3 linked regions of the Homo sapiens genome follow. The gene in region 2 interacts genetically with the main gene of each other region. Each region holds a gene or a part of one and is shown on either strand. Other genes may lie near its edges. The genes, in order: MCOLN1, PTP4A3 and MYH9.

What was found.
Region 1: of PTP4A3 (region 2) and MCOLN1, changing one suppresses a phenotype caused by changing the other (phenotypic suppression), as found in Homo sapiens cells (one study listed by BioGRID).
Region 3: changes in PTP4A3 (region 2) and MYH9 together harm fitness less than expected from each alone (positive genetic interaction), as found in Homo sapiens cells (one study listed by BioGRID).

Annotation. Positions count from the first base shown.
Region 1 is NC_000019.10:7,520,696-7,524,440, forward strand, and holds the start of MCOLN1 (mucolipin-1), read left to right. Parts: upstream 1-1,928; 5' UTR 1,929-2,055; coding exon 2,056-2,086; intron 2,087-2,146; exon of another isoform or gene 2,147-2,467; intron 2,468-3,654; exon of another isoform or gene 3,655-3,745. Other genes in the region: ZNF358 (zinc finger protein 358), read left to right, coding at 1-254. UniProt on the Homo sapiens protein: Nonselective cation channel probably playing a role in the regulation of membrane trafficking events and of metal homeostasis. Acts as a Ca(2+)-permeable cation channel with inwardly rectifying activity.
Region 2 is NC_000008.11:141,422,973-141,426,717, forward strand, and holds part of PTP4A3 (protein tyrosine phosphatase type IVA 3), read left to right. Parts: intron 1-2,075; coding exon 2,076-2,168; intron 2,169-3,745. UniProt on the Homo sapiens protein: Protein tyrosine phosphatase which stimulates progression from G1 into S phase during mitosis. Enhances cell proliferation, cell motility and invasive activity, and promotes cancer metastasis.
Region 3 is NC_000022.11:36,381,323-36,385,067, forward strand, and holds part of MYH9 (myosin-9), read right to left. Parts: intron 1-3,745. UniProt on the Homo sapiens protein: Cellular myosin that appears to play a role in cytokinesis, cell shape, and specialized functions such as secretion and capping. Required for cortical actin clearance prior to oocyte exocytosis. Promotes cell motility in conjunction with S100A4.

The sequences.
Region 1 (3,745 bases), on a different chromosome or scaffold from region 2:
CCCCCAGCCCTACTCCTGTGGAATCTTCTGACCCAAAGGCTGGGCACGACGCTGGTCCCGACCTTGTGCCCAGCCCAGACCTTGATCCTGTGCCCAGCCCAGACCCTGATCCTGTGCCCAGCCCTGATCCCAACCCTGTGTCCTGCCCTGACCCCTGTTCTCCCACTCGTGGCACTGTCAGCCCAGCCCTCCCTACCGGCGAGAGTCCAGAGTGGGTACAGGAGCAAGGGGCACTGCTGGGGCCTGATGGCTGAAGGAGACGCCGGCATCCTCGGGGGCCTGGGGAAGTTGTGTGTTGTGCAGTCAGTAAAATCCTCCCACTGCCTCCGGGCTCTGTGTCGTGGCTTGCCTTTTGTGCTTTCTTTCTGAGCACAGCCCCTTGCTCCGGAGATGGGACATTGTGGCCAGGGCCAGCCACAATCTGGAGCTCCAGTGTCCTGGCTTCCTTCTTGGGCCCACCAGCTAGACTTTCCAGCTTAACCCACAGTGTCTCATCCTGGTCCATCCCACTAGTCACCACTCTCTGTTCCTCTCACTTACCCCTTGCTCTTCAAAGCCCATACAGTAGGTATACAAGTGGACAAAAAAAGTTGCTCATTTATGCAATCAACAAACATCTCTGGATTGCTGGGGTCTCAGCAGGGAACAAGATAAATATGGCCTCGACCTGCATGGAGCTCATAGATACTAAATTCAGAATACTTAAAAAATAATTACGGGGTATAGTACATTCTAGGAGAAGCATAACAAGACTTCTGATATAAATGGCAGGCAGCTTTCTCAATGAAGGATTTTGTAATCCCAATAATCACTAATTTAATAATCAGTACTGTTTGCCCAGCCTTATGCGATAGTTTTTGCATTCTCTCATTTAATCCTCTCAACAGCCCCAGTAGGTAGATGACTTTGAATATCCCCATTTTGCAAATGAGAAAATTGAGGCACATTTTTTTTTTTTTTTTTAGACAGTCTTGCTCTGTTGCCCAGGCTGGAGTGCAGTGGTGTGATCATAGCTCACTGCAGCCTCGACCTCCTGGGCTCAAGCGATCCTCCCACCTTAGCCTCCCGAGTAGCTGGGATTGCCGGTGCATGCCACCGCCCACTGCGCTCAGCTTGGAGTTGAAGGGACTCTGGAAGATGTAGAAGTGGCATTGTCAGTGCCTAGATTTAAATCCCAATTGCCCTCCAGGGTCCAAATTCTTAACCATTACGCTCCAGGGCAAAAGTATGCAAAGGCTCTGGGGCTATAGAAAGATGAGCTTTGGATGGAGGTAGGAGCCAGATCAGAGGGCCCTGATAGACGAGAGTGGGGACTCTGCCTGTCATTACAGAGCAATGGGAAGCCGAGGGCAGGTTCTCGCAGGAAGGATAGGAATTATTCTTTGAAGATGCTTGTGGCTGCTGGGTAGAGAGTGGAGTGGAGGGAGGCTGAGATCGGGGAGGAGGTTGCTGCAAAGATCCAGGCCAGGAATGTTGGAAGACTCTGGGCTGGGGGCCATGGGGTGGGGATAAGTGGTTCTATTTGATACATAATTAGGAAATCGTGTTTGCTGAAGATGCGCAGGAGAAGGGTAAAAGGAGTTTCTGGGAGAAAGAGGAAGACAGCGTTGAGATAGTAGGCAGGGTCATCACCAGGCACCAAGGAGGATAAGGGGTCAAGCTCTGGACATGGAAGTCACAAGCCTGGCACCGGATTCGGGGCATGGCCGGGAGCCAGGGCAGAGCTCGTCGTTGCCAAACTCAGAGTCAGCCCATCCCCCGCCACCCAGAGCGCGTCGGCGCTAGGACCTAGCGACTGCCTTCGACCCAGAGGGCGCCGGCAGAGGCACGCATGCGCGCTGTTCCGGCAGGGGTTGTCGTGGCGCAGGGGGCGGGACCAGAGGCGGTCACGTGAGGGGCTCTGGGCTACCGGGTCACGTGACCGAGGCACAGATCAGCTGATGCCGGAGGGTTTGAAGCCGCGCCGCGAGGGAGCGAGGTCGCAGTGACAGCGGCGGGCGATCGGACCCAGGCTGCCCCGCCGTACCCGCCTGCGTCCCGCGCTCCCGCCCCAGCATGACAGCCCCGGCGGGTCCGCGCGGCTCAGGTGAGGGCGCGGGCGGCACCGTGGGGCCCCGAACTCAGGCGGGCGGGCTGTGTCTCCCACCTGGGGCGGCGGAGCTCCTAGTCTCTTTTTTTCTAAGCTCCAGCGCTGACTTTTCACGGTGGAGAAAAGGGCAGACGGCTCCTAGAACTTGGGCGGCGGGTGGGCACCAGCCTCTCCAATTCTTCCTCCTGAACCCAGGCTCTGCTGGGTTCCCAAACTCAGGCAGGGATCGCGCCGGGCCGCCAGCTTCTCCCTCTGGGGCGGCGAGGTTCCTGGGATTCCCACTGGGAGCCTAGGTTCCGATTGCTCAACTTCGTCTGGAACTCAGACAGCGGGCACCAGCTTCTCCAACCCGCACGTGAGACTCCCAGGCTTCCCCTCCTGATTCCAGGGGACAAATGCTCAGCTTCCCTAAGCTCAAGCCTGGAGAGCTGGAGGGATTGCCCCCAGGCGATTAACTCAGTTTTAGCTTTCCAAACCGCTGGAAGCGCAGCCTTCTTAAATTCGGGCTTCTAGCCAATTCTGATGCCACCCCTCCTCGGGGAGGCTGGAGGAAGACCCCTTGTGTTAGCTTCCCCTTCTGGAGCTAGCTGGGGACCCCTACCTGATAGATGTCCCGGTGTCCCAGCTAGTAGGGTCTGGGGTGGGTTAGCTGTAATCTCAGCTCTGTAAGCGGGCCCTGCCCTCTGGCTTTGTCGTAAACAGCCACAGCAGCATCTCATTGCAAAGGGAGGGGCCGGGAACTTGTCCCTCTCTGCAAGGGAGGTTCTGACAGTGCACACATTTATCCTGACTGCTTTGCTAGGCAGGAGGCCAGGCCCTAGAAAGCAGCACGGGGCCAGGCCCTAGAAAGCACATCCCCATGGGGGTGTGACAGGGACAGTTTTGGGCTACTGTGACTGGTTTTGACTCCAGCAGTTGCTGAAAGCTTAGATCTAACCATTAGGCTGGAAAAAAATAAACAGTGATTAGAACAGCTTGTGTTTGCTGAAGAGGTCTTTATCTGCTGTGTCTCACTGAATTCTCAGAGCAGCTTCAGGATCTCAACCTCAAGGCTCAGGGAGAGGGTGGACTTTTTTTTTTTTTAATAAACTTTTTTTTGTTGCCCAGGCTGTAGTGCAGTGGCATAATCCTAGCTCATTGTAACATCGAACTCCTGGGCTCAAGTGATCCTCCCAACTCAGCCTCCCGGGTAGATGGGGTCCCAGCTACTAACTACGGGCATGAGCCGTCACACCTGACTATTTAAAAAAAATGTTTTTTTTTTGTAGACAGGGAGGTCTCGCTGTATTACCTAGGCTGGATCCTCCCACCTTGGCCTCCCAAAGCCGTTGGGATAACAGGCATGAGCCACTGAGCCCAGCCAAGGGGTCGCCTTTTTAAAATTTCCACTCTTCAGATGAGGAGATGGAGGCTCAGGGAGGTACCTGGAGTCAACCTACTGTAAAGTGGCAGGTCTGGGATTTGATGCTAGGGCTGCATGATTTCTAGGAGCTGGTGCTTTTCAGGGAGATAAAATGAGTCTTTAGCGAATGTGTTCCATTATTATTACTTATGTTGTCAATTACCTCTTCTCCAGGTCCTTGGCTTCTGAGAGTGTCAGCTGATGGGCCAGGTTATAATGAACCCAGAGGTCATCTTTTGGGTATTTGTCCAGAC
Region 2 (3,745 bases):
CTCTGCAGAACGCCCTGCTGTTTGCAGGCCTGGGGCCGTTTGCAGCGTCTGCAGTTGTGTGCGGGGCCGTTGACAGAGCCTCTGACTGTGCCAGGCTGTGTGAGAGGCTGCAGCTGTGTGCAGGGTCATTTATGGCTGAGTCCTTTCCCCTGTGACATGAGATAAGCCATCATGGTCTTGTCATAATGAAACAGATTTGGGCGTGAGAGGGCATTAAGAACTGTAGAGCAGCAGGAGGCATTGGGCACCTTGCCATCAGGGAGCCTGGACCCTGGACACTGAGCCAGGTGCCCTACAGAAGATGGCTGTCCCTCTCGCAGCTGAGACCCCTGAGATAACAGCAGCATCTACAGAAAGATTGGCGAGAACAGCACGGTGAGTGGCCAGGGTGAGGCCTCAGAATATGACTGGGATCAGGGTTAAGTCTGTAACCAAGGTCAGGTCTCAGTGTGTGACCAAGGTTGGGGCTCACTGTTTGACCAGGATCAGGGCTCTGTGTGACCAGGGTCAGGGTTCGGTGTGTGTCTGGGATCAGGGCTCAATGTGTGACCAGGGTTGAGGCTCAGTGTGTGTCCAGGATCAGGGCTCAGTATGTGACCAAGGTTGGGACTCAGTGTGTGTCCAGGATTAGCGCTCAGTATGTGACCAAGGTTGGGGCTCAGTGTTTGACCAGGATCAGGGCTTAGTGTGTGACCAGGGCCAGGGTTTGGTGTGTGTCTGGGATCAGGGCTCAGTATGTGACCAGGGTCGAAGCTCAGTGTGTGTCCAAGATCAGGGTTCAGTGTGTGACCAGGATTGAGGCTTAGTAGGTGAGCAGGGTTAGGGAGGGCTCATCCTGTGACCAGGGTTAACGCTTAGTGTCTGACCAGGATCAGGGCTCAGTGTGTGACCCAGATCAAGGCTCGGTATGTGACCAGGATTAGGGCTCAATGTGTGACCAGGGTTGGGGGCTCAGCACGTGATCAGGATTAGGGCTCAGAGGTGTGTGACTATCAAGGCTCAGGACGTGACCAGGATCAGGGCTCAGTGTGTGACCAGGATCAGGAAGGGCTCAGCCTGTGACCAGGGCCAGGGCTGAGCCGTGGGCTGGGTGGCCATTCCCTCTGCTGAGGGTGCAGAGGGCCTCTGAGGTACCCCATGGCCACAGAGCCCAGCACCCTGCCTGCTCCCTGCATTCTCAGATAGTTGGGTGCTGGCCTCTCTGTGTTCCAGGTCCCTGTCCCGTGACCAGCAAGACCCATCAGCTGATTCCTCACCCCTCCCAAAATAGCTACGAGAGCAGGTGGGGTGGGAACAGCCCCCGCACGTGACCCCTGTGGAGTGGATCCTCCGCAGTGGGGGTATAACTATCGGCCTGGCTGTGAACTACCACCACCTTTTCCCTGGTCGTGTGGGGCTTCCCTGCTGGCGTACAGGGCCCAGCTTCCTCCTGGCTGCCATCTGAGCGGTGCCCACCCTCCCTGCTCTGAGGCGCCCCAGCTGATGCCCGCCCCTCTTAGACCCTAAAAACTGGACCCATCCCTGCGGCTCAGCTGGGGTCGCTGTTCGGATGCAGGGGCTCACACGTGGGCTGGGGAGTCCAGTTCCTGCTGTGGGGACCCAGTAGCTTTTCTGGAAGAAATGTCCTTGCTGGTAGATCTGGGGTCCTGAGCACCCCAGAGGAGGGAGTGGTGTGCTGGGCAGCTGGGGTCCCAGCTGCCAGTTACCGTGAATGTAGGTGGGGACACCTTTGCCTCTGCTGGGTGGCCCAAGGGACCTAGGACAGGCTCTTCGACAGCCAGACACTACCTCGACCAGTAGTGGAGCCTGAAGTCCACTCTTGGTGGACCTCACTGCATCAGGGTCTGCCTGGCTGGAGGGTGACATGCCCTTCCCTGGGGGCTTCAGGGGCCATGACCCTGCCCCAGGGGACTGAGGGGACAGGGCTCCACCCCGAGAGGTCTGAGGGGACATGTCCAAGTCCTGGGTGACTGTGGGGGACACAGCTGTGCCCTGGGAGCCCTGGTGAGTGGGTCCTGCCCCCTGAGCCCTGCAGCCCCAGCCCAGCCCTGCCTCCTCCGTCCTCCCACCCCCAGGACCTGAAGAAGTACGGGGCTACCACTGTGGTGCGTGTGTGTGAAGTGACCTATGACAAAACGCCGCTGGAGAAGGATGGCATCACCGTTGTGGTGAGGCGCGCGCCACGGGGACCCTAGTCACTGCTGCCACCGGGGGAGGGTGGGGCGGGGGGCTCCGGGCCTGCGCAGAGGGTTTGGTGCCCCTCCTGTGGCAGCCCTGGGCATGTCTGTGCCTGGGCCACGTGTGTGTCTGGGTACATCAAGGGAAGGCCAGGGTGTTGGGCCGTGTGACCTCAAGAAAGTCACCCTTGCGCACCCGTCTTTCTGTCTCTAGGGTGGGCCAGCACGGTTCGCCAGGCAGGGGTGGCACATGCTTGGTGCATCGGCCAAGGTGGCGGGTGGGCTCCTCTGCCTGTCTCAGGCCCTCCTCTGGGCCTGTCTTGGGTGCATCTCAGTCTTGCTGCCTGGGCGGCTGGGGCCCTGTTGCCAGGCAGCAGGCTCCTGGGGAGGGCCCTTGGGCAGTTTCCTCGGCTTCTTTGGCCCTGGGGACCCAGGTCTGGGCGGGGGGTGGGGCGGTTCTGCTGCGATATCCTTGGGGGGGTGGGCCACAGCAGCTGCAGGCCCAGAGCCAGCCCCAGGGGGGTCCACCCCCGGCCCGGTGGACGACTGCCCCCCTGGTGCAGGCCTGCCCAGCTGCGCCTGGGCCTCAGTCTCCTCAGTGCGGAGCACCCCTCAGTCACTGCTTTTCATCCCAGGACTCTGCTTTTGGCTGGGGTTGCAGTTTTGTGACCTCAGCTTGGCGGTTTGGAATGGTGGCAGCGCTGGCGGTTTGGGGTCAGACAGGCCTTGGGCTGCGTCCCGCCTCTGCCCTCCCCAGCCTTGCGACCCTGCAGGTCACTCCGAGCCTTGGGTTCCTCACCTCAAAGCGAGGCTGCTTGGAAGAATGGGAGGCAAAGGCATGTCCCCGCTTCTCGCACGGGGTGCGCCCACACCCTCCCTCCCCTTCCACAGCAGCGGGAGGGATTGGGGTCAGACGTAAGTAGCCGTGACACCGGTTGTCTCTAGGAGTTGCCCTGCCTGGAGGCTGGGGAGGGGTGAGATGCCCCCGAGGGCTGTGTGTCTGCCTCAGTGGGCCCAGCGGGCTCTCCCTGGTACCAGACAGCCCCATGCCTGGCACAGTCCCTGCATGAACCCGCCTTCCCAAGACTGAAACGTGTCCACTCCTACTGCAGCGCCCTGGCCCGGGCCCTCCCCTAGGAAGACTCACGTTGCCCACCGATCTAGGGCGCTGGGGGACGGGACAGTGGGAAGCACAGGTCATCTTCCAAGACCAAATTAACCCCCAGGAGCAATGGGCCGGGGCCCGGTGGAACCGCCTGTTTCGAGTCCTGCCCTCAGAAATGTGGGCCCTGTCTCGCCCCACAGCCCTGTCTTCAGTCCTTCCTGGCACCTGGGCTGTGTGTGGCATGTGCCAGCCATCTTTGCATGCCAGCACAGGGGATGAGACCCTTTGCACCAGCCGACCCAAAACCTCTCAGGCTGCCACCGGCACACAGGCGTGAGGGATTGTGACCCCAGAACCAGAGCTCGGGCTGACAGGTGTGGGGATTAGGATTTGTGCGACTCTGGAGCAGGCTCTATTCAGAAAGGGGTGGGGTGGTCCAGGAAGGCTTCCTGGAGGAGGGGAT
Region 3 (3,745 bases), on a different chromosome or scaffold from region 2:
TGGGCAACATGGTGAAACCCCGTCTCTACTAAAAATACAAAAAAATTAGCTGGGCATAGTGGCGCACACCTGTAATCCCAGCTACTCAGGAGGCTGAGGCAGGAGAATCACATGAACCCAGGAGGTGGAGGTTGCAGTGAGCCGAGATCGATCATGCCACTCCAGCCTGGGCAACAGAGCGAGACTCCATCTCAAAAAAAAAAAAAAAAGTATTGAGTGAAATGTACTGCTCACTCCCTGCTCCTGTTGCCTAGACCCTAGGCAACCACCATTACCAGGGTCTCAGTATCTTTCCAGAAATACTGCATGCACAGAGCAGAGTTTACATACCATGTTTTACACAAAACGAAGCACCATTTACACTACTTTGCGTCTGGTGTTTTTCACTTACAACATAGCTTGGAGAGCACACCCTATCAGTACATATGGATTGACCTCATTTTTCAAAGGGATGCAAGGACTTCCACTGTACAGCTGTACCATGATTTAGTTGACCTTTTTAATAGCACAACTTGTTTCCTGTCATCTTCTATGTCAATGCCGCAATGAAGATTCTCAGACATTTCCTTCAGCACATCTGAGTTTATCTGTGAGATGAATTCCTAGAATATAGTCGGAAGGAGTATGCTTTGACAGATACTGCCAAACAACTTTCTTTTGTTGTTGTTGTTGTTGTTTAATGTAACCCAGAGACAGACTCTCCCTGTGTTGCCCAGGCTGATCTCGAACTCCTGGGCTCAAGCAATCCTCCCCCATTGGCCTCCCAAAGTGCTGGGATTACAGATGTGAGCCACCATGCCCAGCCCCAAACGACCTTCTAAAAAGAGGGTTGTACAATATACACTCCCATCAATAAGGTACCAGAGTGCTGGCCAGGTGCGGTGGCTCACGCCTGTAATCCCAGCACTCTGGGAGGCCAAGGCGGGCGGATCACCTGAGGTCAGCAGTTCGAGACCAGCCTGGCCAACATGGTGAAACCCCATTTCTATTAAAAATGCAAAAATTAGCTGGGCGTGGTGGCAGGCGCCTGTAATCCCAGCTACTTGGGAAGCTGAGGCAGGAGAATCGCTTGAACCCAGGAGGCGGAGGTTGCAGTGAGCCGAGATCACACCACTGCACTCCAGCCTGGGCAACAGAGCGAGACTCAGTCTCAAAAAACAAAAAAAAGAGTGCCTAGGAAATTAAAATTACTTGATTTTGCTGGGTGTGGTGGCTCATGCCTATAATCCCAGCACTTTGGGAGGCCAAGGCGGGTGGATCGCCTGAGGTCGGAAGTTCGAGACCAGCCTGGCCAACGTGGTGAAACCCCATCTCTACTAAAAATGCAAAAACTAGCCGGGTGTGGTGGTGCACCCCTGTAATCCTGGCTACTCGGTAGGCTGAGGTAGGAATATTGCTTGAACCCAGGAGGCAGAGGCTGCAGTGAGCCAAGATCATGCCACTGTACTCCAGCCTGGGCAACAGAGTGAGACCCCATCTCAAATAAAGAAATAAATAAATAAATAAAATTACTTAATTTTTCAGTTTTTCAGGCACTCCCATACATAACTTGTGGGCACATAAACTGGTATGATATCTTTGTAGGGAGATACGGCACCTCCTCGGAAATCAAACCTGGCCAGGTGCAGTATTTCACACCTGTAACCCCAGCACTCTGAGAGGCTGAGGCAGGAGGGTTGCTTGAGCCCAGGGGTTTGAGACTAGCCTAGGCAATACAGCAAGATCCCATCCCTACAAAAAACACAAAAATTAGCCAGGTGTAGCAGTGTGCACTTGTAATCCTGGCTACTCAGGAGGCTGAGGCAGAGAATTGCTTGAGCCCAGGAATTTGAGGCTGCAGTGAGCTATGATCATGCTACTGCACTATAGCCTGGGCAACAGAGCAAGACCCTGCTTCAAAACGAAATCAAAAAACAAAAAGGAAATCAAACCTCCCCTCACCCAGAGCCAGAGTTGGAAGTAAGGTCTCCAGTCACCCAAGTCCAGTGCTCTTCCTGTATCACCCTTTGGCTATCTCCCAGACCACAGGAAACCATGTGTTTGAACTGAAACCACAGTCTGCACACCTTCTGTCCCAGCCGGGGCCCTGTGAAGAGGTTACTCAGCAGAAGTTCATCACCAAGTGCATCCAAAAGCATCAGCAGATGGGCCTCATAGCCACTTGTGAATAGGCAGTCCACAACCACAGTCCACAACCACAATACACGCATACCTTGTTGTGCACAGAGGCAGAAAGAACACCGAGCTAGAAGCCAGGAAAACAATCTGTCCCCCAGCCTCATCCCCACCCCCTCAACCTGATAACCTAGGGAGTTAAGACTGATCATTTATATTAAAAAAAAAGGGGGGGGGGTGCCAGGTGCGGTGGCTCACGCCTGTAATCCTAACACTTTGGGAGGCTGAGGCGGGTAGATCACCTGAGGTCAGGAGCTCGAGACCAGCCTGGCCAACATAGTGAAACCCTGTCTCTACTAAAAATACAAAAAAATTAGCCACGCATGGTGGCGGGCACCTGTAATCCCAGCTATTCGGGAGGTTGAGGCATGAGAACCGCTTGAACCCAGGAGGCGGAGGTTGCAGTGAGACAAGATAGTGCCACTGCACTCCAGCCTGGGTGACAGAGTGAGACCCTGTCTCGAAAAAAAAAAAAAAAGTGGGCGAGGGGGTGCTGGGTGTGGTGGCTCACGCCTGTAATCCTAGCACTCTGGGAGGTCGAGGCCGGTGGATCGCTTGAGGTCAGAAGTTCCAGACCAGCGTGGTCAACATGGCAAAATCCCATCTCTACTAAAAATACAAAAATTAGCCAAGTATGGTGGCAGGCACCTGTAATCCCAGCTACTCGGGAGACTGAGGCAGAAGAATCGCTTAAACCTTGGGGGCAGAGGTTGCAGTGAGCTGAGATTGTGCCACTGCACTCTAGCCTGGGCGAGAGTGAGACTCATCTCAAAAAACAAACAAACAAACAAAAACCATATATGAGCCGGGCACGGTGGCTCACACCTGTAATCTCAGCACTGTGGGAGGCCGAGATGGGCAGATCACCTGAGGTCAGGAGTTCGAGATCAGCCTGGCCAACATGGTGAAACCTCATCTCAACTACAGATATAAAAACTAGTGGGGTGTGGTGGTGGGCACCTGTAATCCCAGCTACTCGGGAGGCTGAGGCAGGAGAATTGCTTGAACCCAGGAGGAAGAGGTTGCAGCAAGCTGAGGTCACGCCATTGCACTCTAGCCTGGGCGACAGAGCAAGACTCTGTCTCAAAAAAAAAAAAAAAAAAAAAAAAAAAAAATATATATATATATATATATATATATATATATATATATATACAGCCACTACATATTAGGCCATGTACATACCTTATTTCTTTCAGTTCATGCATCTAACCCCACAGGGTAGGATCTTGATTCCCATATTATACATAAGCACATCCAAGCTGTGAGGCTATGTGACTTGCCTAAGGTCACAAAGCTATTAAGTAGCATGGTCAGGATTTGAACTCGGCCTGTTTCCAAAGCTCACGTTCTTTCCACTACCCCACTCTTCCCAGCTCTAAGAGTGGGATTCAGTAAGCCACAGCAGCAGCACTGCCAGGGCTCCATTCTTTTGTCAGCAGAGGACTCCAGCCCAGGGTCTCAGCACACCAAGGGTTAAGGCTGAGAGGCAGTGACTCTCTGGGGCTGCACAAAGGGAAATGCACTTCCTGCCCCAGCAGGCAGAGATGCTGTTTTATGCTCAGTAAAT